Regions from separate parts of the Homo sapiens genome. Here region 2 is linked to region 1. The links come from fine-mapping of genetic effects on gene expression. A gene starts in region 1. The other region holds a variant in brackets. All regions are shown on one strand. Distances are from middle to middle. Region 1 holds the start of TMEM205 (transmembrane protein 205). Region 2 holds the start of TSPAN16 (tetraspanin 16).

Evidence for each region. PIP is the estimated chance that this variant, and not a neighbour inherited with it, causes the effect.
Region 2: its variant is fine-mapped to the expression of TMEM205 in whole blood (TOPMed, PIP above 0.99).

The regions. Positions count from the first base shown.
Region 1 is chr19:11,339,682-11,354,361 of GRCh38, forward strand. It overlaps TMEM205 (transmembrane protein 205), which reads right to left and starts at 6,587. Exons shown (of 3, transcript NM_198536.3): 1 at 5,839-6,587; 2 at 5,571-5,734; 3 at 3,097-3,439. The coding sequence starts at 5,938. The coding sequence ends at 3,134. CCDC159 (coiled-coil domain containing 159) reads left to right here and starts at 6,838. Exons shown (of 11, transcript NM_001080503.3): 1 at 6,838-6,946; 2 at 9,973-10,006; 3 at 10,257-10,345; 4 at 10,437-10,518; 5 at 11,127-11,322; 6 at 12,225-12,292; 7 at 12,376-12,452; 8 at 13,770-13,891; 9 at 14,111-14,193. The coding sequence starts at 6,926. RefSeq lists a silencer at 1-18 and enhancers at 6,108-6,938, 10,789-11,289.
Region 2 is chr19:11,286,279-11,300,958 of GRCh38, forward strand. TSPAN16 (tetraspanin 16) reads left to right here and starts at 9,882. Exons shown (of 7, transcript NM_001282509.2): 1 at 9,882-10,088; 2 at 11,864-12,061; 3 at 12,594-12,668. The coding sequence starts at 10,020. TSPAN16-AS1 (TSPAN16 antisense RNA 1) reads right to left here. Exons shown (of 3, transcript NR_187778.1): 3 at 14,513-14,680. RefSeq lists enhancers at 11,915-12,416, 12,417-12,916. The variant C/T (reference allele first, on the strand shown) is at 7,561.

The DNA of each region.
Region 1 (14,680 bases):
CGGGGGATGGGGGAGGACGAAGAGGGGCCGAGTCTTGGGCGGGGCTTTCAGAGAGCGGGTGGGAGGGGCTGGAAGCTGCACCAAGCGTCTAGAGCCCGTCCTAGCCAAGCAACATCTCATTTTCCCAGCTGCTTGTAAAGAGCTTCTACTATACGCACGGCTGTTAAAAGCATAGAGTCTTGGGCCTGGTTCGAGTCCCAGCTCCACCACTTTCTAGTCTTGTGGCTTTGGACGCGTTACTTAACCTCTTTGAGCCTCAGTTTCCCCATCCGTCAAGTAGCTCATAGCGAGAGTACCCAACCTCACAGAGTTGTGGGAGGATTCTGATCTGAGTTAGTGTTTGTCAAGTGCAGTGCCGGCCTTAAAGTAGGCTAGGCCAGGCGCGGTGGCCTGTAATTACAGCAGTTTGGGAGGCCGAGGCAGGAGAATCACTTGAGGCCAGGAGTTTGAGACCAGCTTGGGCATCGTAAGGAGACCTCATCTCTACTAAAAATAACAAAAATTAGCCAGGTGTGGTGGCGTGCGTCTGTAACCCCAGCTACTTGGGAGGCTGAGGCAGGAGGATTGCTGGAGACATCGAGGCTGCAGTGAGCCTTGATTGCACCACAGCACTCCAGCCTGGGCAACAGAGCAAGACCCTGTTTCAAATAAATAAAAATAAACGAGAGCTGGGCGCGGTGGCTTATGCCTGTAATCCCAGTACTTTGGGAGGCCAAGGCAGGCGGATCACTTGAGGTCAGGAATTTAAGACCAGCCTGGCCAACATGGTGAAACCTCATCTCTACTAAAAAAAAAAAAAAAAAAATACAAATATTAGGGGCTGGGCACGGTGGCTCACACCTGTAATCTCAGCACTTTGGGAGGCCGAGGTGGGCAGATCACCTGAGGTCGGGAGTTCGAGACTAGCCTGGCCAACGTGAAGAAACCCTGTCTCTACTAAAAAATACAAAATTAGCCAGGCGTGGTGACGCATGCCTGTAATCCCAGTTACTCTGGAAGCTGAGGCAGGAGAATTGCTTGAACCCGGAAGGCGGAGGTTGCAGTGAGCCGAGATCACGCCACTGCACTCCAGCCTGGGCAAAAAGAGCGAAACTCTGTCTCAAATAAATAAATAAATATACAAAAATTAGCCGAGCATGGTGGTGCACACCTGTAATCCCAACTACTTGGGAGGCTGAGGCAGGAGAATCGCTTGAACCCAGGAGGTGGAGGTTGCAGTGAGCCGAGATCGCGCCACTGCACTCCAGCCTAGACGATGGAGTGAGACTCTGTCTCAAAAAAAAAAAAAAAAAAATTAAAAAATAAATGAGGCTGGGCACAGTGTCTGATGCCTGTAATCCCAGCCCTTTGGGAGGCTGAGGCAGGAGGATTCCTTGAGCTCAGGAGTTCAAGGCCAGCCTAGGCAACATAGAGATCCCAACTCTACAAAAAATTTTTTTGAAAATTAGCTGGCCACAAAAAAAAAAAAAAAAAAAAAAAGAAAAAGAAAAAAAGAAAAAAGAAAAAAAAATTAGCTGACCATGGGGGCACATACATGTAGTCTTAGCTACTCCGGAGGCTGAGGCAGGGGGATTGCTTGAGCCTGGGAGAGAGAGAGGCTTCAGTAGGTTATGACTGTGCCACTGCACTCCAGCCTAGGTGACAGGGCAAGACTTTATCTCTAAATAAAGAAAGTTAAAGTGGGTTGGATCCCTTTGTGAAATACCCAGGTTTTGCTGGTGTTGGAATCCCAGCAATTCCACCTTACTCAATTTGCTGAACTTCTCTGAGCCCCCACTGCCTCGTGGGAACAAAAGTAGCTGCCTCAAGAGCTGCCACGTGGATGAATGAGGATGAAGTGCATTAGTTAGGAAGGGCTGGGTTATGCTTAGTAACAAGCACTCCCAAAGACTTCACGGCCCCAACAGCTAAGGTTTGGTTCCCATGATGGTTGTTTTGTGAAGTGAAAATGCAGCAAATTATGTACTGTTTTGTAATACTTCTCCTTGGAAGGGACACATGCCACCTCTGCTCACATTTCATTGGCCAAAGCAAGTCACATGGCCACCCCCAATGTCAGTAGGGTGGGAAATATGATTGTCCTCTAGGATCAGAACCATCTGGGCCTGGTGGCTGGCGCCCGTAGTCCGAGCTACTTTGGAGGCTGAGGTGGGAGGATTGCTTGAGTCCAGGAGTTGGAGGCTGCAATGAGCTATCATCACGCCACTTCACTCCAGCTTGGGTGACAGAGCAAGACCCTGTCAAAAACAAGACAAAACAGGCTGGGCGTGGTGGCTCACGCCTGTAATCCCAGCACTTTGGGAGGCCGAAGCGAGCAGATGGCCTCAGGTCGGGAATTCAAGGCCAGCCTGGCCAGCACAGTGAAACTCCGTCTCTACTAAAAATAACAAAAATTAGATGGGCGTGGTGGCAGGTGTCTGTAATCCCAGCTACTCAGGAAGCTGAGGCAGAATAATCGCTTGAACCCGGGAGGCGGAGATTGCAGTGAGCCAAGGTCATGCCATTGCACTCCAGCCTGGGCAACAGAGCAAGACTCTGTCTCAAAAAAAAAAAAAAAAAAAAAGACAAAACAGCCAGGCATGGTGGCTCATGCCTGTAATCCTAGCACTTTGAGAGGCCAAGGCGGGTGGATCACCTGAGGTCGGGAGTTCAAGACCAGCCTGACCAACATGGAGAAACCCTGTCTCTAGTAAAAATACAAAAAATTAGCCAGGCATGGTGGCGGATGCCTGTAATCCCATCTACTCAGGAGGCTGAGGCAGGAGAATCGCTTGAACCCAGAGGCAGAGGTTGTAGGGAGCTGAGATCGCACCACTGCACTCCAGCCTGGACAACAAGAGTGAAACTCCGTCTCAAAACAGAACAAAACAAAACAAAACAAAACAAATAATACATGATATGTCAGTGGTTAACAACATGTCTGGTATACAGCAGGTGCTCAATAAATGGGCATCATTATAGGAGAGGCTTACAGGATAAAATGGCTGACACTCCAAACCATCATGCTTCATGAATGGGGAAACTGAGGCTCTTGGCTCTACCCTTGCCTGCCCCTCCCCCTGCTTCTCATGGGGGAAAAAAAAAAGACAGCAGCCATTTCTGAAGAAGCATTTATTAGCATGCAGGGCCCATGCTAGAGGCTCCTTATTTCCAGGGCAAGGCCAGCGAGACAGAGCCCATTGCTCAGGACGCAGCCCAGATTGCAAAGAGAGGACAGCCCATGGTAGCGGAAGAAATTCTGGCGGAGAGCACTGTACTTGGGGTCCTTCTCTCGCAGCTGGCGGTAGGGATCGGGACCCTGGTGGCTGCCTGGTACCTCCCCACCCAGGCCTCGCTCCTTCTCCACGGTTTGCAGGGCCCACATGGCAGCTGTGGTGCGGGGTTCCAGCCAGCGGGCGTTGACAGTGGCCAGCGTAAGGCTCAGGAACAGCAGGTAAAGCTGGCAGGGAGAGCAGAGGAGAAGGTGAGCCATGCCTGGGAGGCCAGAGGGGCCCTAGGGAGGGTCTTTCTGCATCCTCAACAGCACAGGGGTGGGGGTGGGGACAGCACTGGATCAAAAAACCTGCCTCCCCCTCTTTCCTTGAACCCAGACTGAGGGACCCAAAGCAGAACTCCAGCTCTTCTACTCTGAAACTGGCAGCTCTGAAGGAAAGGCTCCATCCCCACCTCCTCTATCCCCCCGCAAAACCTCCCGAGCCTCTTCTCCTCTGATACTCAGACTGGAAGTCCCCAGAGCAGGATCTCTTTCCTCAGTGGCCACAGCCCAGACGCCTGAAGCTGACATTGGACCCACAGAGGGTGAATAAAAAGTCTTTGAGTGGCTGGGCGCAGTGGCTCATGCCTATAGTCCCAGCACTTTGGGAGGCTGAGGTGAGTGGATCACTTGAGGCCAGGAGTTCAAGGACAGCCTGGGCAACATGGGCAAAACCCCGTCTCTACTAAAAATACAAAAATTAGCCAGGTGTGGGGGCTGTCCCCCTGTAATCCCAGCTACTCAGGAGGCTGAGGCATGAGGATTGCTTGAACCCGGGAAGGAGAGGTTGCAGTGAGCCAAGATTGCACCACTGCACTGCAGCCTGGGCGACAGAGCAAGACCCTGTCTCAAAAACAAACAAAACAAAACAAAAAGTCTTTGAAGGCAGGCATGGTGGCTCATGCCTGTAATCTGTAATCCCGGTGCTTTCAGAGATGGGGGTGGGAGCATCACTTGAAGCCAGGAGTTCAAGACCAGCCTGAACAACACAGCAAAGACCCTCATCTTTTTTTTTTTTTTTTTTTTTGAGACTGAGTTTCACTCTTGTTGCCCAGGCTGGAGTGCAATGGCGTGACCTTGGCCCACTGCAATCTCCGCCTCCTGGGTTCAAGCAATTCTCCTGCCTCAGCCTCCCAAATAGCTGGGATTACAGGCGCACACCACCACACCCAGCTAATTTTTGTATTTTTAGTAGAGACGGGGTTTCACCATGTTAGCCAGGATGGTCTCGCGCTCCTGACCTCGTGATCCACCCACCTCAGCCTCCCAAAGTGCTGGGATTACAGGCATGAGCCACTGCGCCCAGCCTATTTTTTTTAATTAGGAAAAATGTTTTTGCCATTCTCACATTGCTATAACACCATCTCTATCTGTTTTAAGTATTTGAATACCTTCTGAGCCTGTTTCATTAAAATAAATAAATAAAAGGAAAAAAAAACAGTCTGTGAAGTTCTAGTTACCCATAATCCCCTCCTGTCTGTGAGATTATTCTTGAAACACCTGTCAGGTCTCACTTACCCACGTCTATGAAACATAATGCAGGCAAGGGAAGGCCAGAGTAAATAGAGAAATCTGAGATGCAGAGATAGTTTCTTGCCTTGTGGCCAGAAAAATGTGTGGAAGGGGATAGGAAACCATAAATTCCCAGTCGGGCTGGTTTTTAAACAATAAGCTGGGGTCAATGTGCCAGCTCAGCTGAGTCACCACAGCTTGGCAGCAGGCCCAGCCAGCGGGAGGAGAGGGAACAGCAGCTAGCAGGGAGATGCTGGGGGATAGACAGGGCTGCTGGGGACTGTTGTACAGGCTGTGCACTGCTCAAGGGTATCCAGAGCCCAGCTTTGTATCTACCAGGAAGAAGGGGCTCCCCTCCCCTCCCTTCCTCTTCCCTCCCCTCTCCTTTCCTCTCCTCTCCTTTCCTTTCCTTTTTTTTTTTTTTTTTGAGATGGAGTCTTGCTTTGTCGCCCTGGCTGGAGTGCAATGGCATGATCTCGGCTCACTGCAACCTCTGCCTCCTCGGTTCAAGCAATTCTCCTGCCTCAGCCTCCTGAGTAGCTGGAATTACAGGTGCACACCACCACGCCTGGCTAATTTTTTTGTATTTTTAGTAGAGACGGGGTTTCACCATGTTGGTCAGGCTGGTCTTGAACTCCTGACCTCGTGATCCGCCCACCTCGGCCTCCCAAAGTGTTGGGATTACAGGCGTGAGCCACCATGCCTAGCCTTTTTTTTTCCCCCCCTGGAAAAGGTGTAGCCATAGGCGCTGACTGAGGTCCTGGGAACAAGTCTCCAGAGGGCAGTGGCACTCAAACCCACGTACCTGGCTGGCCTCCCAGAATGTGAGCTGAGCCCAAGCATGCTGTGAAGCCAAGATGCAGAGGTTGATGAAGGCACAGCCCATGGAGATGTGGAAGTAGAAGGGGAAGAGTTTGCTCTGCACTAGTCCGAAGGTATGTCGGGGAAGGCTTCGGAAAAGCAGGAAGCCTGCAGGGTATGGGGACCACAGGGGTGTTAGGGCACTTCCCGGTTCCCCTCTTATTTCCATCCCCACCCCAGGTACCCATGACATCCAAGCTGAGGGTCCCTACCTGAGACGAAGGTCACCCACATTTGCATGCCCCAGGCACCTGACAAGACCAGTAGATGGACCATCTTAATCAGGCCTCCTAGGTTCCCGCCTTCCTCCATCTTGCAGTCCTGGGAAGGAGGCACCGGGTGGCTCAGAACTTTACCTTTGCCTCATGCGTGGCCTTCAGACCCTGTGAGCCCGCTCGGGGACAGGGTTACGGCCAATCCAGCAGAGATTCTGGCAAAGCATCCCGGGAATGAGAGTGAGAAAGGCCCAAAGCAGTCAAGGCCCAAAGACAACCCTCGACCCCATCTCTCCAAATGTCAGCCCTCAAGATCTCAGGCTCTCTGGACCTCAATCTCCATGCCACTTCAGAGGCCCCAAATTTCAGCCACAGCAGCTCCAGATCATAGCCCTAGGTCTTCAGAGATCACTCCACTAATTCCCAAATATCACCCCAGGGATCCAGTTCTGACAGCCAAGACCACTCCTCTCATAAAATAATACCGGATATTAGGTGAAGATCCCGAAAGCCCCGAGGAAACCCTAAATCTCATCCTGAGGACACCGATCCCACCAAAGCCCCGAGGAAACGCCAAATCTCATCCCGAGGACACCGATCCCACCGTTAGGAACCGGGACCTCAATCCGCAGCACCCGGATTCCGAGAACAGAGGCGTCGGGGCCAAATGGGCTGAATCTGGTACCTCACTCCCACGCCCCCGGGTGGACAGCGACCCTCCTCGGCCGCGTCCCCTCGTGGGTTTCCCCCAACCAATAATTCGTCCCGCCTCCCAGCTGAGCCCGAAGCCAATCGGGTCGTAGATCTGCACCTTTCTATCCCGCCCTCCTGGGTATTGACTAATCGTAGAAACCCCCCTGGGATCCCGCCCCCTCCACGGGCTTTTATCCAATTACGCCGCGGCTACTAAGCGCAGCTGAAGCGTGAAGGCGCCAATGAGGCCTTCGGCTACTCCGGCAGGGGCGGAACTAAAATGCCGGCCACACCCCTCTCTGTGACTCAGTCTCTGAGCGTTTTAATACGATGGTGTCCCCGCGGGATCAAACTTCAGCGTCACAGCTGAGGACTGGCTTCGTGGTCCCTGATGGGAGAGCATGAACAGGTGGTATGTGGTAGGTGGGGTTCTGGAGCCTGGCGGGTGTAGATTTCACAACCCAGGGGGCGGAGCCAGGATGATGACCCCGCCCCCTCCCTAAATAATTCTCCCGGGAGGGACACGGAAGCAGCAACCGGGATGGGACGGGGAGAGAGGAGGCACTACTGGGGACCTAAGCTGGTTCTCAAATGCCTCTCCTTTTCCCCTCCAAGCCTCCCAGGCTTCCTATGGTCCCTAAGTCCCGGGTTCTCAGCGTGACATTCCAGAGCAAACACAGCTCCCCATTACTCTATACCAGGCACTGGCATGGATTAATTTATCTAATCACAACATCCCAGTAAGGTGACTATTATGACATCTCGTTTTTATAGTTGGGGACACTGAGGCATGGAGAGGTTCAGTAACGCGACCAGTATTACACAGCTGGAAGGGACAGAGCTAGGATTTGAACCCAGGCCATCTAGCTGGAGAGTTTCCCTGCTTAACCGTCATACTCTGCTGTCCCTGGAAGTGAGGACCTCCCTGAGGCAGTGACTCTCGGAGGGGCAGCTTAGGACATTTCAGGCAGAAGAAAAACGTGTACATCACAGGGTGGGTGTGAAGATCCAGTGAATGCTTAGGGGATGCCCGGCACTCAATTAGGTGCTCAGAAAATAGGAGCCTAAAAAAGGATTAAGGAAGATTTTACTGAAGATATGCTGAATAGTTTTTGTTTGTCTGTTTGTGTTTGAGACGGAGTTTCGCTCTCGTTGCCCGGGCTGGAGCACAGTGGCATGATATCGGCTCACTGCAACCTCCGCCTCTGAGGTTCAAGCGACTCTCCTGCCTCACCCTTCCAAGTAGCTGAGATTACAGGCATGCGCCACCACGCCTGGCTAATTTTGTATTTTTAGTAGAGATGGGGTTTCTCCATGTTGGCCAGGCTGGTCTCGAACTCCTGACCTCAGGTGATCCACCTGCCTTGGCCTCCCAAAGTGCTAGGATTACAGGTGTTAGCCACCGTGCCCAGCCTGAGTAGTTCTGAAGAGCGTGTAGGAGTCTTCCAGGTCGACTGAATCAGGCAGAGGGCCTGGCAAGGGTGACAGAGAGAAAGGTCTAGAGGATTTGGGGGAAGAGGCTGAGTGTGACTCAGGGCAAGGTGCCTTTCACCTAGAAGTTTCTCCAGGCAGACCTGCCCCAGATATCTCCATCTGTGCCATATGTGGCTATACTGGAGGGGGAGGGGAGTTGAATGTGAGACCCAGAGCTCAGCTGTTTCCTGTTTCCAGCCTCTTCTAGCACGGGTCTGGGCCCCAATTCAGCTAACATTTATTGAACAGATATGCCCTGCCTCTCCTGCTCACACTCTATGGCTGGCATTCACCTGTGGGGCCAGGTCGAAACTCCTGGCTTGGCCGTCAATGCCTTACTGGAGCTGCTCTGCTAACCTCCTGCTGCTTCCTCTCGGACCTCGATTCAGCCATCATGAATTTACCAGCATAGAGCATGTGATTCCACACCTCCAAGCTTTTGCACATGCTGCTCCCTGCCAGGAAAGGCCTTCCTTTAAGCCAATGTCAAGGTCCCTTTTTTCTTTGGACTCTTCTGAGGCCTGATTTTTTTTCTTTGGGGCCTTCTGGGTCCTTCTCACTGCCCAGCCCAAACCTTGGGGCTGGGATAATCTTTTTTGTTGTTGTTTTTTATTTTTGGAGACTGAGTCTCACTCTGTTGCTGAGGCTGGAGTGCAGTGGTGCAATCTCGGCTCACTGCCACCTCCGCCTCCCGGGTTCAAGTGATTCTCCTGCCTCAGCCTCCCGAGTAGCTGGGATTACAGGCGCCCACCACCATGCCCAGCTAGTTTTTGTATTTTTAGTAGAGACGGGGTTTCACCATATTGGCCACGCTGGTCTCGAACTCCTGACCTCAAGTGATCCTCCCGCCTTGGCCTCCCAAAGTGCTAGGATTACAGGCGTGAGCCACCATTGCTGGCCGCGTCTGGCCTTGGGATCATCTTTTATCCAGCTTTGGCTCCTACCATAACTGAGAAGCCTTGAGTTTAGGGCTGAGGCCTCTCTGGCATGTCAGGGAGGGTCTGGGGGCACTGGGGACATGGGGACTTATCTCAAAGCAGCCCCTGCTTCCCTACTCACAGCGACCCTCTTTTGGCCGGCCTACCCCGGGACCCTGACTACTCTGTGTCCTGCCTCTACTCACCTCCCTCACCCTCCAGCATGTGTTTGCCTGCTAACATGAAGTGTGACAAGTACTGGGGTTAGTTAGGGGGCTCCCATAGGGCTGGGGACACTGGGAGGGGCTGGGAATGTGAGGAGTGCCCTGCACTGTCCCTCAAGGAAGCCCTCACCCCTAGGCTCTTCCTCGGACAAGGCTCTGGAGCGTACAGCTCACTGGTCCAGGACTCCAGAGCCAGAGACCTTGGGATGCCCTGCTTCTGGGGACACAGTGAGGACTGCAGACTGCAGGCCAGGGTGGGGCTCAGGGCCTTCGCCACATGAGGCTGCCCCCTCCCCCAGTCCAGACCTGCAGAAGCAGTGCTGTAATGACCAGGACATTTTGAAGAGGCATCACAACGTAGCTAAGGTCACCCCCACCCGGGAAACCCCTTCAATGCAGAAAACCACTGCAATCTACTGCTGTGGGGCTTAGGGAAGGGGCTGTAAGGCAGAGAGACTCCCATGAATGCACCCACTGTGTTTCTTCAGCACCTAGAACAGCACCTGGCACTCAGCAGGCCCTGGCTAAGCAAGTCTTAAATGAATGGATGAAGGAATGAATGGAAGGAAAGAGTGTGGTTGTGTGTCTTCCATGGGGATTTGGCTGTGATCGTCTCTCAGCCACATAAGTGCACTTCTGAGCATATGTAGCCCAAGGGGGAGGTGCATGAATATGCCTGGAGTGCAGCTTTGCCTGCACTTACGGTTTGGGACACCTAGAACTGAGGAGATCCAACTCTTGTCCAGCCCTCAAAACTGGGTTGAGGTGAGCAAGGAGGCAGCTCAGGGACAAATTTCTACTCCCATCTCATCTCTCTTCCTTAGAAGCCCTTGGAGACCAGCTCTTCCAAAGTCAAAGGTGAGAAATCTCCTTTCCAACAAAACTGTGTGGGGAAGACCTGCTGGTTTCTACCTCTACCCTCTGCCCCAGCATCAGCTGTCCCCCTGCCATGGTCACCCATTCACTCCTGCCCAAGGCTGAGTGGGCCCCTGTTCTATATCTTATCCCCTGTCCCTACTGCTACTCTGAGCCTTTGCTGACCTCTGCCCTGCCCTTGCCCCAGACCCCACCCCTTACAGCCCTGGCTCACCCTCTTCTCTGCCCACAGCCAAGACCATTGTGATGATTCCCGACTCCCAGAAGCTCCTGCGATGTGAACTTGAGTCACTCAAGAGCCAGTTACAGGCCCAGACCAAGGTGAACCACCTTGGCCCTGCCCCCAGCAACCTCTGTTTCTCCTTGCCCTCCCCTCCTTCCTCCCACCCCAAGGCTGACCTCTTTCCCCCAGGCTTTCGAGTTCCTGAACCACTCAGTGACCATGTTGGAGAAGGAGAGCTGCTTGCAGCAAATCAAGATTCAGCAGCTTGAAGGTGAGGACTGACCAGAGATCAAGGTCAGGCTAGGCCAGGCGTGGTGGCTCACGCCTGTAATCCCAGCATTTGGGGAGGCCAAAGAGGTTGGATCACTTGAGGTCAGGAGTTTGAGACCAGCCTGGACAACATGGTGAAACCCCATATCTACTTAAAAAAAAAAAAAAAAAAAGCCAGGTGCTGTCACTCATGGCTGTAATCCCAGCACTTTGGGAGGCTGAGGCAGGTGGATCACCTGAGGTCAGGAGTTCGAGACCAGCCTGGCCAATATGGTGAAACCCCATCTCTACTAACAATACAAAAATTAGCCAGGCGTGGTGGTATGCACCTGTAGTCCCAGCCACTCAGGAGGCTGAGAAAGGAGAATTGCTTTCTGGGAGGCAGAGGTTGCAGTGAGCCGAGATCACGCCACTGCACTCCAGCCTGGGCAACAAAGCAAGACTTCATCTCAAAAGAAAAAAAGTCAGGCTGGAAGCTGGTCCTGTTGGGATCAGCTGGGCCAGGCCAGGGTGAGGGAAATTGGGAGAGTCTGGGTTCTGGGTCAAGATTAGGACAAGCTGGGTTCAGGGTGGGATCAGGGCTCAGTCAAGGTCCCACACTCTCTGCAGAGGTGCTGAGCCCCACAGGCCGCCAGGGAGAGAAGGAGGAGCACAAGTGGGGCATGGAGCAGGGCCGGCAGGAGCTGTATGGGGCCCTGACCCAAGGCCTTCAGGGGCTGGAGAAGACCCTGCGTGACAGTGAGGAGATGCAGCGGGCCCGCACCACTCGCTGCCTGCAGCTGCTGGCCCAGGAGATCCGGGACAGGTCGGGGATGGCGGGAGGGCAGCTTGGAGTCCACAGGAGGGAAGGGAGACCCAGAACTGGGGAATGGAGGCAGGATGGGGGAAATGGCAGATGCCTGGGGGAGGGGGACTGAGGGATGGTGGAAAGCCTGAGGGACAAGAAGAGGGAATGAGGCCGGGTGTGGTGGCTCATGCCTGTAATCCCAGCACTTTGGGAAGCCGAGATGGGCGGATCACCTGAGGTCAGGAGTTCGAGACCAGCCTGGCCAACATGGTGAAACCCCATCTCTACTAAAAATACAAGAATTAGTCAGGCATGGCGGCGGGTGCCTGTAATCCCAGCTACTAGGGAAGCTGAAGCAGGAGAATCACTGGAACCCAGGAGGCAGAGGTTGCAGTGAGCTGAGATCGCACCACTGCACTCCAGCCTGGGCGCCTGGGCGCCTGGGCGGCAGAGCGAGACTCTGTCTAAAAAAAAAAAAATGAGGAGGGGATGAGAGGCTCAGGGGAGACAGGTGGCTGGTGGGGGCGGGGGAGTGGGAAACTGAGAGGCCAGAAGGCAGGGAAGACAGAAAGCTGGAGGTGGGATGGAAAAGGAGGCCAGGGGATCAGAAAGGGGGATGGCAGGGAAGACTGAGAGGACAGGAGACTGGGGGTATAGAAAGTCGGGGGACAGGAGGTGGGGAGGTGGAGGCCAGGTGATAGGAGGCTGAGTGGGGTGGGAGAGACTGAGAGAATGGGAGGCTGGGGATCAGAAGGAGAGGAGGGGGATGAGGGTAGGGGGATTGTAGAAGGGGAGGGGAAAAGGGCAGGGAAGTGTGGGGAGGGGACAGAGCTTGCGGGGATGGGTGGAGGCACAGATAGGGGCATGGGAGGTCAGGGGCCAGGCAGGGAGTGCAGGTCTAGGCTGCACTGTCCCCTCAGCAAGAAGTTCCTGTGGGAGGAGCTGGAACTGGTGCGGGAGGAGGTGACCTTCATCTATCAGAAGCTCCGTGAGTTCCTGGAGCCCACAGCCGGTGTGTGGGGAGGGGGTCCTTCTTCAGCCTTTGTCCGCCTGAGCCCCCTCCCTCCACAGAAGCGCAGGAGGATGAGATCTCAGAGAACTTGGTGAACATTCAGAAAATGCAGAAAACGCAGGTGAAATGCCGCAAAGTGAGTGGAGGAGATGGGGACCCTGGGGAGGAGTGGGAGAGGGAGGGATGGGGATTTTGGCCAGCCTCCACCATGAGATTGGAGCCTGGGTTCAAATCTCAGCTCTGCCACTCACTGCTGTGTGACTGTGGGCAAGTCACTTGACCTCTCTGAGCCTCAGTTTCCTCATCTGTATAATGGATGTAATAATAACTCATCTTGGCTGGGCGCGGTGGCTCACGCCTGTAATCCCAGCACTTTGGGAGGCTGAGGTGGGTGGATCAGAAGTTCGAGACCAGCCTGGCCAACATGATGAAACCCCGTCTATACTAAAAATACAAAAATTAGCTGGGTGTGGTGGCAGGCACCTGTAATCCCAGCTACTCAGGAGACTGAGGATGGAGAATGGCTTGAACCTAGGAGGCAGAGGTTACAGCGAGCCGAAATCGTGCCATTGCACTCCACCCTGGGCGACAAGAGCAAAACTCCCATCTTAAAAAAAAAAAAGAAAAAAGAAAAAGAAAAAGAAAACTCATCCTGTTGGGTGCTGTGGCATGCCTGTTATCTCAGCACTTTGGGAGGCTGAGGTGGTTGGATTGCTTGAGGCCAGAAGTTCAAGACCAGCCTAGGCAACATGGCAAAACCCTGTCTCTACAAAAAACAAAAAAAACAAGAGGGTGTGGTGGCACATGCCTGTAGACTTAGCTACTCAGAAGGCTGAGGTAGGGGGATCACTTGAGCCTTGGAGGTTCAGGGTGCGTTGAGCCCTGATAGTACCATTGCACTCTAGCCTGGGCGACAGACTGAGACCCTGTCTCAAAAAAGAAACAAACACCAAAAACAAAAACAAAAAACAAAACAAAAAAAAACACTCCTCCCTACCTGATCAGGTGTCTGTATTAGCTGAGTACTGTGCACTTGAATGCAGTCTGGCATATAACAAGTGCTATATAACAGTCACCTTTTACTATTATCATTATTATTATTTATTTTGTTTTCTTTTTTGAGACGGAGTTTCCCTCTTGTTGCCCAGGCTGGAGTGCAATGGCGCGATCTCAACTCACTGCAACCTCTGCCTCCTGGGTTCAAGCAATTCTCCTGCCTCAGCCTCTCGAGTAGCTGGGACAACAGGCGCCCGCCACCACGCCCGGCTAACTTTTTGTATTTTTAGTAGAGATGCGGTTTCACTGTGTTAGCCAGGATGGTCTCAATCTCCTGACCTCGTGATCTGCCCGCCTCGGCCTCCCAAAGTGCTGGGATTACAGGTGTGAGCCACCGCGCCTGGCACTATTGTCATTATTATTATGACTGCTGTTCTCTCATCCCTCCCCACCCCAGATCCTGACCAAGATGAAGCAGCAGGGTCATGAGACAGCCGCCTGTCCGGAGACTGAAGAGATACCGCAGGGAGCCAGTGGCTGCTGGAAGGATGACCTCCAGAAGGAACTGAGTGATATATGGTGATGCCCAGCCTGCAGTCTGACCCCTGACCCTCCTCTGAACCCGTTCCCCCAACGGGATCTGGCAGTGACCACCAGAACCTGGAGCCCACCTGAGTCCAGACTTCCCTCACCCCCTAGGACTCACCCCACCACGGCCCCCAACCTTAGCTGTACTGCTGTCTACACCCTGAGCAGTGTGGAGTCTCCCAGCGCCCCCAGCTCCTTGTCTTCTTGCAGGTCTGCTGTGCACGTGCTGCAGAACTCCATAGACAGCCTCACTTTGTGCTCGGGGGCCTGTCCCAAGGCCTCGAGCCTAAGAGGTGAGGGAGGCTGAGAATTGCTCAGGGGTGGGAGGTCATTGTCTAGCTTCACAGGGAGGCTATGTTCAGAGAGCCTATTTGGGAGTCACATCTGATGGGTGTTATTCTATGGTCACATTAAGTAGTGTTCTGGGGTCACATTAAGGAGTCACTGGAGGTTTCATCCAGGAGTCATTCATGGTCACATTCAGAGTCACTTGGATCTTATATGAGTCCATGGGGACTCCACACAGTGGCTCATGCCTGTAATCCTAATATTTTGGGAGGCTGAGGTGGGAGGATTACTTGAGTCTAGGAGTTTGAGACCAGCCTGGGCAACACAGTGAGACCCCATCTCTCCAAAAAATTTAAAAACTAGCTGGGTGATGGTGCACCTGTGGCTGAGCACACCTGTAGTCTCAGCTACTCAGGAGGCTGAGACAGGAGGATCGCTTGAGCCTGCGAGGTTGAGGCTGCAGTGAGCCATAATCGTGCCACTGCACTCCAG
Region 2 (14,680 bases), 53 kb before region 1:
CCTTGATTTTTTTAAAGTCAAAGTCACCAGCAAGCCATGAACATTATCTCTCTTCTTAAGGAAGAAAGGGACCAGGGTGGTGGCCTAGGCAACATAGGGAGACCCCGTCTCTACAAATAATATATATATAAAAAAAAACAACTAGCTGGGTGGGGTGGTGCATGGCTGTGGTCCCAGCTACTAGGGAGGCTGAGCTGGGAGGATCCCTTGAGCCTAGGAGCTGGAGGCTGGACTGAGCTATGATGGAGCCACTGTACTCCAGCCTGGGCAACAGAGTGAGACCTTGTCAAAAATAAAAAATAAAAAAATAAAAAATAAAAATAAATAAAAAAAGGAAGGAAGGAAAGGTCTCCTTCACCGGATGTGAACCCTTTTCCCAAATCTTGTGCTGTGTTTCTCAGCCCCCACAGGCAGCTGAAATATGTCATCACCCACCCACTGCTTCCTGTCTGTGTTAGATTTTTGGGAGCTGCCATAACAAATCATCACCAGCTTGCTGGTTTAAAACAACAAGAATTTATTCTTTTATTTTTTGAGACACAGTCTCCCTCTGTCGCCCAGGCTGGAGAGCAGTGGGGCGATCTTAGGTCACTGCAACCACTGCCTCCCAGGCTCAAGCGATTCTTCTGCCTCAGCCTTCTGAGTAGCTGGGATTATAGGCATGTGACACCATGCCCGGCTAATTTTTGTATTTTTAGTAGAGACAGGGTTTTGCCATGTTGGTCAGGCTGGTCTCAAACTCCCGACCTCAGGTGCTCCGCCCGCCTTGGCCTCCCAAAGTGTTGGAATTACAGGCGTCAGCCACCACGCCCAGCCCCCTAAAATTTATTCTTTCACTGTTCTGGATGCCAGAAGTCTGAAATCAAGGTGTCAACAGAGCCGTGCTGCCCCCAAAAGCTCTGGGGAAGGTTCCTTCCTTGCCTCTTCCAACTTCTGGTGGCCCCTGGTGGTCGCTGGATTGTGGCCACGTCACTCCAATCACTGCCTCTTCCATCATCTTGTGGCCTTCTCCCCTCTGTCTGTGTCCAAATGTTCCTCTCCTGTCTCTCTTTCTCTCTCTCATTTTTTTATGAGACAGAGTCTCACTCTATTACCCAGGCTGGAGTGCAATGGTGTAATCTCAGCTCACTGCAACCTCTGCCTCCTGGGTTCAAGTGATTCTCCTGCCTCAGCCTCCCTAGTAGCCTGGAGTACAGGCGTCCACCACCACAACCAGCTAATTTTTCTATTTTTAATAGAGAGAGGGTTTTGCCATGTTAGCCAGGCTGACCTCAAACTCCTTGCCTCAAAATCCACCCACCTCACTCTCCCAAAGCACTGGGTATTACAGGCATGAGCCACCACACCTGGCCTCCTTTTTTTTTTTTTTTGAGATAGAGTCTTGCTCTGTCACCCAGGCTGGAGTGCAGTGGCGCGATCTCGGCTCACTGCAAGTTCTGCCTCCTGGGTTCACGCCATTCTCCTGCCTCAGCTTCCCGAGTAGCTGGGACTACAGGCGCCCGCCACCATGCCTGGCTAATTTTTTTTGTATTTTTAGTAGAGACGGGGTTTCACCGTGTTAGCCAGGATGGTCTCCATCTCCTAATCTTGTGATCCACCCGCCTTGGCCTCCCAAAGTGCTGGAATTACAGGTGTGAGCCACAGAGCCTGGTCTTTTTTTTTTTTTTTTTTTTTTTAACCAACAACCTTATTTATTTATTTTTGAGACAAGGTCTTGCTCTGTTGCCCAGGATGGAATGCAGTGGCACCATCATACCTCACTGCAGCCTCGACTTCCCAGGCTCAAGACATCCTCCCAACTCTGCCTCTAGAGTGGCTAGTACTACAGATACACGCCACCATACCTGGCTAATTTTTATTTTTTTAGAGACAGGGTCTCGATATGTTGCCCGGGCTGGTCTTGAACTCCTGGCCTCAAGCCTCCTGTCTCCTCTGGTCTTGCCCTCCCAAAGTGCTGGGATTACAGGCATGAGCCACCACCCCTAACCCCTCTCCTATGTCTTATAAAGACACCAGATATTGACCAGATATTGGATTTAGGACCTGACCTAAATCTAGGCTGACTTCATCTCAAGATGTTTAACCAATGACATCTGCAAAGACCCTGTTTTCAGATAGGGTCTCATCTGAGGCTCCAGATGGATATGAATTTTGTGGTGACATGACTTAACCCACTGTGGTGCTCACGGTAACCAGAGCTGGACATGAAGTTCTACAGGAACTGCGAGAACATTAGCAGGTACCGGGCCGAGTCATTTCCCTCTATTCCCACCAGGAGGCCTTGTAGTCCTGTTCCTTTTACAACATTTATTTCTTTTCTACTGTGGCAAAATATATATAACTTAAAATTTTGTCATTTTAACCATTTTAAGTGTACAGTTCAGGCCGGGTGTGGTGGCTCACACCTGTAATCCCAGCACTTTAGGAGGCTGAGGTGGGCGGATCACTTGAGGTCGGGAGTTTGAGACCAGCCTGGGCAACATGGTGAAACCCCGTCTCTACTAAAATTACAAAAATTAGCCGGGCATGGTGGCACGCTCCTGTAGTCCCAGGTACTCAGGAGGCTGAGGCAGGAGAGTTGCTCGAACCCAGTAGATGGAGGTTGCAGGGAGCTGAGATCGCAAGATCACGCCACTGCACTCCAGCCTTGGCAACAGAGCAAGACTCTGTCTCAAAAAAAAAAAGAAAAGTACAGTTCAGCAGCATTAAGCACATTCACATCGCTGTGCAGCCATCACCACCATCCGTCTCCAGAACTTTCTCATCTTTCCAAACTGAAACTCTATCCCCATGAAACACTCACTCCCCACGCTCCTCTCCATTCCCTGGTACCCACCATTCTGTTTTCTGTCTTTATGAATCTGATGACTCTAGGGACCTCAAATGAGTGGAATCATGCAATATTTGTCTTTTTTTTTTTTCGAGACAGAGTTCGCTCTGTCGCCCAGGCTGGAGTGCAGTGGCGTGATCTCGGCTCACTGCAAACTCCGCCTCCCGGGTTCACATGATTCTCCTGCCTCAGCCTCCCAAGTAGCCAGGATTACAGGCGCCTGCCACCACATACAGCTAATTTTTGTATTTTTAGTAGAGACGGGGTTTCACCATGTTGGCCAGGCTCCAAACTCCTGACCTCAAGTGATCTGCCAGCCTTGGCCTCCCAAAGTGCTGGGATTATAGGCATGAGCCACCGCGCCTGGCTCCCGTTGTCAATTCTTTTAGTTAAGAATTTGAGCAGGTGTGGTGGCTCATGCCTGTAATCCCAGGATTTTGGGAGGCTGAGGCAGCCAGATCACTTGAGTCCAGGAGTTCAAGACCATTGCTAGAGCCTGTCTCTACCAAAAATGGAAAAAAAAAAAAAAAAGGCAGGTGCGGTAGTGTGTGCCTGTAGTCTCAGCTACTCAGGAGGCTGAGGCGGGAGGATCACTTGAGCCCTGGAGTTTGAAGCTACAATGAACTATGATCACATCACTGCACTCCAGCCTGAGCAACAAAGTGAGATCCAGTCTGCAAAAAAGCAACAAAGATTTCTGCATTCATTTTCTCAGCTTTTGAGCATCTTTTCCTCTAGTTGGACAATCTTATACTTAATCAGCTACTAATACTTTCAAAGGGCATTTAAGGCCGGGCACGATGGCTCACGGCTGTAATCCCAGCACTTTGGGAGGCCGAGGCAGGTGGATCACCTGAGGTCAGGAGATCGAGACCAGTCTGGCCAACATGGTGAAACCCTGTCTCTACCAAAAATACAAAAATTAGCTGGGCATAGTGGGGCATGCCTGTAGTCCCAGCTACTGGGGAGGCCGAGGCAGGAGAATTGCTTGAACCCAGGAAATGAAGGTTGCAATGAGCTGAGATTGCACCACTGCCCTCGGCCTGGGCAACAGAGTGAGACTTCGTCTAAAAAAAAAACAAAAAAACAAAAACAAAGGGCACTTAAGTTGTTGTTTCCAATCATTCACAAGTCAAGCGAGGCTTAAGAGCAGGCATTAGCAAAACTACATTCTGCCACCCATTTTTGTAAATAACAAAACCATCTCATATTATAAATAACATTTTATTTTGACAGAGTCACACTTGTTCATTTACATATATTTACATATTGTCCATTTACATATTTTCTATGGCTGCAATAGCAGAGTCCCAACAGAGACGGTATGGTCCGCAAAGCTGAAAATATTTACTTTCTGGCTCTTTCCAGAAAAATCTGCCAGCTCTTGGCCTATGTGCATTTGAATAAATCTGTAGTAGGAATTCCTAGAAGGAGAAACATTCCCCACAAGGTTTTAAAAGTCCATTTGCGGTTGTTACAGGTCCGCCTGTAATAAAATCTCCAAAAGCTATTTATGAGGTCTTTTTTTTTTTTTTTTGAGACAGAGTCTCACTGTGTTGCCGAGGCTGGCGTGTGCAGTGGCAAGACCTCGGCTCAACGCAACCTCCGCCTCCCGGGTTCAAGCGATTCTCCTGCCTCAGCCTCCTGAGTAGCTGAGATTACAGGCATGCACCACCATGCCCGGCTAATTTTTGCATTTTTGGTAGAGACGGGGTTTCACCATGTTGGCCAGGCTGGTGTCAAACTCCTGACCTCAAGTGATCCGCCTGCCTTGGCCTCCCAAAGTGCTGAGATTACAAGCGTGAGCCACTGCACCTGGCCAACCTTTTCAATGTGTTTAAGTGAGATACTTGAGGAATATGGGATGGGAACAGTCTTGGCCACCCTGGGACCAGCTGCCCAGACAACAGAGGGAATTAGAACCCGATCCCCCATGCTAACAAGAACAGAAGCCCCCTCGAGATGTGTCACCTGCATGCACTGGTCTGGGGCCACTCGCTGCTTCCTGAACTCTCATCAGGACCCTCCAGTCCTCCTAACCCTTCAAGGTTGATACCCCTGAAACCCTCCCTTCTCATCACTGCCTGGGTATACCTTATATACTAAATATTTTTAATATTATCAAGGATCTTGGCTGGGTGTGGTGGCTCATACCTGTAATCCCAGCGCTTTGAGAGGCTAAGTCAGGAGGATTGCTTGAGCCCAGGAGTTCGAGACCAATCTGGGAAACATAGCGAGACCCCTGTCTCCACAAAAAATAAAAAAATTAGCCGGGCGTGGTGGCACGTGCCATTGGTCCCAGCTACTCTAAAGGCCAAAGCGAGAGGATCGCTTGAGCCCAGGAGGGTGAGGTTGCAGGGAGCTGAGATCACACTACTGTACTTCCAGCCTGGGAGACAAAGCGAGACCCTGTCTCAAAAAACAAACAAACAAACAAAAACCCATCTCCTGGTTCTCCTTAATTTCACTTCCCTCTTTTCCAGCCAGAAGCTAAGGTAGCTGAAGGGGTAGAAATTGCAGATCTTTCTTTATGTAGCAAGAGAGAGGAACTGGGAAAGCAGTGAGTGTCCCTGTAGGACAGGGGTCTTCTTATTTTATTTTATTTTTTTGAGACAGAGTCTCGCTTTGTCGCCCAGGCTGGAGTGCAGTGGTGCGGTCTCGGCTCACTGCAACCTCCATCTCCCCAGCTCAAGCAATTCTTCTGCCTCAGCCTCCTGAGTAGCTGGGATTACAGGTGCCCACCTGTAATTAACCGCATCCAGCTAATTTTGTAGTTTTAGTAGAGACGGGGCTTCCCCATGTTGGCCAAGGCTGGTCTTGAACTCCTGACCTCAGGTGATCCACCCGCCTCGGCCTCCCAAAGTGCTGGGATTACAGGTGTGAACCACTGTGCCTGGCCTGACAGGGGTCTTCTGATCACTCCTCAGTGCCTCCCAACCCACCATACAGAGCACAAAGTGTTAACCCTAAGGCAGAATGTGAACATGGGGAAACAAATGCAATTTTAAAAAACAACCAGCCAAACAAAAAAATCCCTAATGGTGGAAATGCTGTTTGTTTTTTTTTCATTTGGTAGCAATGATTACCATCATGCTCCTCTCCTGCCACAATGACGTCAGCCCCTGATGCTGAAACTTGGTGACACTTCTGTGCTTGTCCCCAGTGAGGGCTGAGGTGCACAACCTGGGAACTCCTAGAACAAGTGACTGATGCCAAAGGTGTGGACCAGCCTCTGCAAGGACAGACACCTTTCTTTTGTGTGTCCCAGACTTTTTTTTTGGATGGTGGATTCTGATTTGCCTCCTTCCCCAACGATGGCTATTAAAATACCTGAAACCATAAAATGCCCCTTTGTCAAGGATGGATCTAGGTTTTGTGAGGCGTAAACAAATACATTTCTGCCGCAAAGTTTACATGAACAAGTGAGCAGGCGAACCTACTGCCGCGCTCCTCTCTGACCTTGAAGGGTGGGCGCAAGCTCAGGTCTCATTCATTCACTATTTGTTGTTCAGTGCTCCCAAACACCCAATTGTTGCCCTTGACAACAAACACATGAATTTAAGAAGAGGAGTTCAGGCCAGGCACGGTGGCTCACGCCTGTAATTCCAGCACTTTGGGAGGCCGAGGGGGGTGGATCACTTGAGATCAGGAGTTTGAGACCAGCCTGGCCAACGTGGTGAAACCCCATCTCTACTAAAAATACAAAAATTAGCCGGGCGTGGTGGCGTTGCGCCTATAATCCCAGCTACTCAGGATCCTGAGGCAGGAGAATTGCTTGAGCCTGGGAGGCAGAGGTTGCAGTGAGCCGAAATCGCACCACTGCACTCCAGCCTGGGCAACAGAGAAAGACTCCGTCTGAAAATTAAAAAAAAAAAAAAAAAAGAGGAGAGTTTGTTGACTAATATGGGTCGTTGACATAAATATTCTGTGTGTGATTGTATTCAACACATTTCATTTTTTGGTTGTGATTTTTTTTTTTTTTTTTTTTTTTTGAGACGGAATCTCGCTCTGTCGCCCAGGCTGGAGGGCAGTGGCGCGATCTCGGCTCACTGCAAGCTCCACCTCCCGGGTTCACACCATTCTTCTGCCTCAGCCTCCCGAGTAGCTGGGACTACAGGCGCCCGCCACCACGCCCAGCTATTTTTTTTTGTATTTTTTTTAGTGGAGACGGGGTTTCACCGTGTTAGCCAGGATGGTCTCGATCTCCTGACCTTGTGATCCGCCCGTCTCGGTCTCCCAAAGTGCTGGCATTACAGGCGTGAGCCACCGCGCCCGGCTGGTTAATTGTGCTTTTTAAAAAATATCTCCCATCCCCATAAATATGTACACCTACTATGTGCCCACATAATTAAAAATTAAACAATTTTAATCCCCTAAAAATAAAAAAGGAGACCAAGCATGTGGAGAAATAAATGTCTCAACACACCATAAGGGTGTATTGGAGTGGCCCTTCTATGATTTTGACAATGATATTAAACGTCCTGGCCGGGCGCGGTGGCTCATCCCTGTAATCCCAGCATTTTAGGAGGCCGAGGCAGGAGGATGGCTTGAACCTAGGACTTAGAGGTCAGCCCAGGCAACATAGCGAGACCGCGTCTCTACAAAAAAAAAAAAAAAAAAAAAAAGCAAGTATCTTGCATTTGCAATTCGTCGGATGCCTGCAAAGTTCCGTGGGTGTGTGATGTAGGAATCTGGGGCACGGGAAGTTATTCTTGCTTCATTTCCTGACG[C/T]TGACCGGCTGGGCGGGGTCCCTGGGGCACCCGGGCACATTTGGACGTGTTTGGCAGGGAGAGTCCTGGCCCAGCCCCGGCACGTAGGGCCGCGCTTCCACGGGCCGCCGCCAGGAGACGCGCGAGGCTGTAGATGCGGCTTTGCAGAGAAGCTGGGAGGGTAGAGGGGCTGGGGCGGTCGAGGGGCGGGGCTGCGTGCAGCCGGCCCAGATTCCTTTCCGGCCAGTTCCTTCCAGGAGCTGCTCCCACGTCTACAGCGCCGTCTGCTACTCACCCAGCTCTCTTGTATCTGAGCCTCATTTTCCCACCGTCCTTTAAGCCCGTTTTCCCACTGCTCATTTGCAGCCAAGTTTCCATCTCGCATCTTTGCGTCCCCCTTCTCTGCACCCTCCTTTGCACCCCCATTTTCCTGCTTTCCCTTGAGTCCACATTTCCCAGACCTCCTTTGCCCCCTACATTTTCCAATGCTCTCTTGCATGCCCATTTATCACCCTCTTTTGTGCCCCCATTTCCAGGCCCTCAGCCCCTGGTTCTGAGGTTCCTTACTTCAAATGACCTTTTTTTTTTTTTTTTTTTTTTCCTGAAACGGAGGAGTCTCCCTCTGTCTCCCGGGCTGGAGTGCAGTGATGTGGTCTCGGCTCACTGCAACCTCCGCCTCCCGGGTTCAAGAGATTCTCCTGCCTCAGCCTCCCGAGTAGCTGGGACTGCAGGCACCCGCCACCACAACCGGCTAATTTTTTGTATTTTTAGTAGAGACAGGGTTTCACTGCATTAGCCAGGATGGTCTCGATCTCCTGACCTCGTGATCTACCCACCTCGGCCTCCCAAAGTGCTGGGATTACTGGCGTGAGCCACCGCGCCTGGCTTCAAATGACCTCTTAAATAAAGGTGTGGAAGGACACACTCCTGGCTGTGAACAGCACCCGTGGTCCAGGAGGAGACAGCACTCCTCTGTGAACATCTTGCTTAGTTCTACATGTTCCAAGAAGCAGGCGATTTGACAGACATTCATTAAATTAATTAAAGTGTAAGGTATTTTCTCCCATTTGAACCATCCGCCTTCCCCCAATCCATGCAGGACCTGGACCCAGACACACCCCAGCCCAGGGCTGGACAGAGAGGGGATCGGGGTGGGGCAATGTGAAGCTGCTATGGTTAGGGTGGGGAGGTATGGGGGCAAAGTGGGCTACAGACTGCAGGATCTAGGCCTGGAGGTCTTCAGTGCTGACATACAGAAGGTTTTTGGTCCTGAAATGCTAACTACATCTATCACCATGGAGAAAAGCCCAATGACCTGCTACTTGGGAGGCTAAGGTGGGAGGATCACTTGAGCCAGGGAGGTCGTGGCTGCAGTAAGCCATGATCACACCACTGCACTCCAGCCTGGGCAATGGAGCAAGATCCTGTCTCAAAAGAAAAAAACCCAGTGACCAATGGCTCACAGTTCCAGGACTCTCTGCCTTACAGGTTCCTGCCCTCATGTTACTCTTGGGGCTTCAAAGCCTGGTCTTGCTTCCTGTGTGGCCTCAGGCAGTTCCCTTGGCCTCTCTGAGCCCTGTATGAAGGATGGGCCAAGTATGGGCTTGGGCTTGGGAGGCCCGGTGGCTTGTAGCTAGATTTCTGCATCACAGAGCCTCTGGATCCATTCATTCATTCTCCGCGGGTTTCTTAAGTACTGCAGTGCCAGGCTTTGGGGACACAGCTGTTTTTGTTTTTGTTTTGTTTTGTTTGAGACAGAGTCTCACTCCGTCAACCAGGCTGGAGTGGAATGGCACGACCTCAGATCACTGCAACCTCCACCTCCTGGGTTCAAGTGATTCTCCTGCCCCAGCCTCCCAAGTAGCTGGGATTATAGGCGTGTGCCACCACACCCAGGTAATTTTTGTATTGTTTGTATTGTTAGTAGGTCTCAAACTCCTGACCTCAGGTGATTCGCCCGTCTCCGCCTCCCAACATGCTTTGACTACAGGTGTGAGCCACTGCGCCTGGCAGGGGTCACAGCTGTTAATAGGACAGCCCAAGTTCCCCCCTCCCCCGCTTGGATCCCCCAGTCTACTAGGAGATGTCAACTGTGCAAGTGGTTAGCTCTGGGCACTATGCCCACAGGGTCCTGGTGGCATCTGGAGGGTACCAGGGTAGCATACCATGCCTGTTCTCTTTCCCTGCTGTGACCTGTTTGAAGGATGAGGAGCCAACAGGGGGCAGTTTGGGGCACCTGATTTCCCTGGACCATGAGCCTTGCTCCAGAACCCAATTGTGATGTGATAAAAGGCTTATGACCAGGGCAGGGGGCAGCTGCTGGGCCGCCTTGGACAACCATCAGGCAGCCAGGACACAGAGGGGCAGAGCAAGTCAGCATTGGCGCCCCTTCCTCAGATCCCTATCATCTTGGGAAACAGTAGCCCAGAGGTTCAGGAAGATGTTAACTTAAATGTTCAGGGTGCCCCAGTCTGTTCAGCATGGCTGAAATCCACACTCCGTATTCTTCCTTGAAGAAACTGTTATCTTTACTCAATGGCTTCGTGGCTGTAAGTATGTCACAATCCAGGCCCCTGGTTTGTTGCAGCCCTTCCTCCACAGTCAGCTCCCTGAAAGACAGAAATAAGTTGATCCAAATTGGCATCGAGATCTGTGGTTCCCTGGAGAAGCAGGAGGGATGTAGGGCAGACGGAGGAGGAGGAGCAGGGAGCGTGGGGACCTCCATCAACCGAGAGCTGGTGAAATCCAGCACAGATGAGTGTGATCTGGGGGAGCCCAGGTGGGTGATGGAAGAGCTTGGCTCTAAGTCAAATCCTGTAGCCGACCAAGTTGTTTGGGAAGGCCAGGAGAAAGGGTTATTTTCTTGATCTTTTAAATTTGTCACATTTTTTTCCTTACCGTAAAAGTAACCCGAAATGTACATTGCTAAGGAATTGTCAGGCCGGGGGCGCTGGCTCATGCCTGTAATCCCAACGCTTTGGGAGGCCAAGGCGGGTGGATCACGAGGTCAGGAGTTCAAGACCAGCCTTGGTCAATATGGGGAAACCCCATCTCTACTAAAAATACAAAAAAATTAGATGGGCGTGGTGGCACGTGCCTATAATCCCAGCTACTCAGGAGGCTGAGGCATGTGAATTGCTTGAACCTGGGCGGCAGAGGTTGGCAGTGAGCCGAGATTGTGTCACTGCACTCCAGCCTGGGCAACATAGCGAGACTCTGTCTCAATAAAAAAATAAAAGAATAAAAACATAAAAAGAAGTAATTGTCTTCATTGTAGCATAGTCTAAGGAAAAGCTGCCAGGAAAGAGAAGGAAATGAAATATCACTCCTCCTCTTCACTTGTAACATTTTAAAGAGAATTAAGGCCGGCTGTGGTGACTCATGCCTGTAATCCCAGCACTTTGGGAGGCCGAGGTGGGCAGATCCATTGAGCCAGGAGCTCGAGACCAGCTATAGTGAGATCCCCATCTCTATTTAAAAAATAATAATACAAAATAAAGTGTTATTGGAACATGGCCGTGCTCACTTATTTGGAGATTGTGAACAGCTGCTTTTGGGCTACACCAATAGAACTGCGTAGTTTCAACAGACACCTTAAGTCCTGCAGAGGCCACAACATCTGGGTTTTTCAGAAAAAAAAAATTGCTAATCCCTGTCCTATGACATTATTTTATTTTATTTTATTTTATTTTATTTTGAGACGGAGTCTTGCTCTGTCACCCAGGCTGGAGTGCAGTGGCATGATCTCAGCTCACTGCAACCTCCACCTCCCAGGTTTAAGCGATTCTTCTGCCTCAGCCTCCTGAGTAGCTGGGATTACAGGTGCCCACCACCACGCCCGGCCAATTTTTGTATTTTTAGTAGAGACAGGGTTTCGCCATGTTGGCCAGGCTGGTCTCGAACTCCTGACCTCAGGTGATCCACCTGCTTCGGCCTCCCAAAGTGCTGGGATTACAGGTGTGAGCCACTGTGGCTGGCCTATTTTATTTTTTGAGACAAGGTCTTGATCTGTCATCCAGGCTGGAGTACAGTGGCACAGTCATAGCTCACTGCAGTCTCAACCTCATGAGCTAAAGTGATCCTCCCACTGCAGACACCTGAGTAGCTGAGACTACAGGCACGCACTACTACTGGCTATTTTTTTTTTGTTGGGGAGAGGGTACAGATGAGGTCTTACCAAGCTGGTCTTGAACTCCTGGGCTCAAGTCTTGGCCTTGGCCTCCCAAAGTGCTGGGATTACAGGCATGAGCCACCGCACTCACCCAGTTCTATTTGTATACAACTAACAGATTACTTTTCTTCCTTTCTGGTTTCTGTTCTAAAGGTGTCTGGCATCATCCTAGTTGGCCTGGGCATTGGTGGTAAATGTGGAGGGGCCTCTCTGACGAATGTCCTCGGGCTGTCCTCCGCATACCTCCTTCACGTTGGCAACCTGTGCCTGGTGATGGGATGCATCACGGTACTGCTTGGCTGTGCCGGGTGGTATGGAGCGACTAAAGAGAGCAGAGGCACGCTCTTGTTTGTAAGTTGGATCTGCACACAGACCCCAGAACTGCCTCCCCACACACACAAATCTTTTATTGTGCGTGTTGCAAACAACTTTGCTTGGTGTCACCTATTTTTTTTTTTTTTGCGGGGACAGGGTTTCACTCTGTCGCCCAGGCTGGAGTGCAGTGGCACAATCTTGGTTCACTGCAACCTCTGCCTCCCAGGTTCAAGCGATTCTCCTGCCTCAGCCTCCCGAGTAGCTGGGATTACAGGCACCCCTACCATGCCCTGCTAATTTTTGTATTTTTAGTAGAGACGGGATTTTGCCATGTTGGCCAGGCTGGTCTTGAAGTCCTGACCTCGTGATCCACCCGCCTCGGTCTCCTAAAGTGCTGGGATTACAAGTGTTGAGCCACTGCTCCCGGTCGAATTGTTTTAAACTGGAGAGGCCAGGGTGGCCTGGGGTGGAGGGTCGGGGGAACAGAGACAACCCCTCACCTGCAGGGTATAAGGTCGGGAGGAGGCTGAGCAGGCTCCCAGGCCCTCTCTCCCCGTGTGTCTTTTAGTGCATCCTGTCAATGGTTATTGTCCTCATCATGGAAGTTACAGCTGCCACAGTGGTCCTTCTTTTCTTTCCAATTGTAAGTACAGCCCTGCTCCTCCCACATAGCATTAGAAAGATAAAGAACCAAGGACGGGCACAGTGGCTCACGCCTCTAATCCCAGCATTTTGGGAGGCTGAGTCTGGTGGATCACCTGAGGTCATGAGTTTGAGACCAGCCTGGCCAACATGGTGAAACCCCGTCTCTACCAAAAATACAAAAAATTAGCCAGGCGTGATAGCACGCACTTGTAATCCAGCTACTCAGGAGGCTGAGGCAGGATAATCCCTTGAACCCGGGAGGCAGAGGTTGCAGTGAGCCAAGATTGCACCACTGCACTCCAGCCTGGGCAACAGAATGAGACTCCGTTAAAAAAAAAAAAAAGATATAGAACCAATAGAAGTCCGCCCCTCCCCGCCAGGCACCCATGATCGATTGTGGGGACCCAGTGATGGAGGGGCCCATCACACGTGCCACCTTTGATGGTGTGAGAAGCTGAAATCCTCAGCCTGCCTCTCCAAGTCCTCACAAAACCTGCTGAGTTCATTTAGTTCATCCCTCTTGGGTTTGGTGGCAGGAGAAGGGGAGATGATCAGAAGTGTTTGCATATTGATTGGGGTTTTGAAATGTATTCAAAATAGAGGGACAATTTAGCAAAATCCATCCAAATGACAAAAGCTTCAGCACTTTGACCTGGCAGTCCCATCTCTGGGAATTATTCAAGAACTCACTTGCTGGTGTGCAGAATCACATTCATGCCAGGGCATGTGAAAGATTGCAAAGAGGGCCAGGTGCGGTGGCTCACGCCTATAATCCCAGCACTTTGGGAGGCCGAGGCAGGTGGATCACCTGAGGTCAGGAGTTCGAGACCAGCCTGGCCAACATGGTAAAACCCCGTCTCTATTAAAAATACAAAAAAACTAGCCAGGCCTGGTGGCACATGCCTGTAATCCCAGCTATTCAGGAGGCTGAGGCAGGAGAATCACTTGAACCCGGGAGCCAGAGGTTGCAGTGAGCTGAGATTGTGCCATTGCACTCCAGCCTGGGCAACAAGAGTGAAACTCTGTCTCAAAAAAAGAAAAAAAAAAAAAAAGAAAAGAAAAGAAAAAAGAAAGATTGCAAAGAACCTAGTGAGTATGAATAAGGGTTTAGGCAAGTTAAAATACATCGACACAGTGGAATCCTGTACATCAGGTACAGGGAAGGAGGCGGCTCTCTGGGCACCAGATGGAATGCTCTCCAGGATAGAGTGCCGTCCTCATTGGCATCCTCCCCAGAGGCTGACCCTGAAACAATAATTCAAAGGCATGTGGTTTATTTGAGAGGTGATCCCAGAAAACACCTGCAGGGGACATGGCAAATGAGGCAGGTAAGGGAAGACAGCCCACAAAAGGGGATGCTGGGCACAGCATAGAACATGCACCTAGGTTATTCCACTCAAGTGGAGAGGGAGCTGGGATATTGATCCACCAACTCCAACCAGCCATTGATGGAGGGCTGCTCCCAGGGGGCATGTGGGCTCAGAGGCCAGAGAATCCTCACTTGCTGGCACTAGGGAGTCAGGCCAGTAGGCACAGAACTGACAAGGGCCACAGAGTTATGGGCAGGCCACCAAGAGCCCCTGCTACTCCTGTCGAGAACAGCCAGACGCAGAAAAATGAGTGCAGCATAAACCAAAGAGGAAGAATAGTGAAAATATACTTTGCTTTGACACACATAGAAGAACATCTCTTTGGGGACACAGGAAACAGTTAACAGTCATTGGCATGGAGTGGGAGGAAACTTTTGGCTGGGAGGAAGGGGTGGGAGAGAGACTTTTCATGGTCTGTTCTCCTGTGCATGTCAATTTCGAACCACGTGCCTCTATCATCGCTTTGCAAAAGGATTTTTTAAACCTTTATTTAAAAAACAGAAAATTAAATGTGCCCCTTTTGTGCAGACAGAGATTCCGTGGAAGATGATATTCAATTCTTTAATGGAGTTACAGCCACATCGTGGGTGCAGCAGGGTGTAGGCGATTCCAAAGAGCAGATGATTCAAATTCGTGTGCG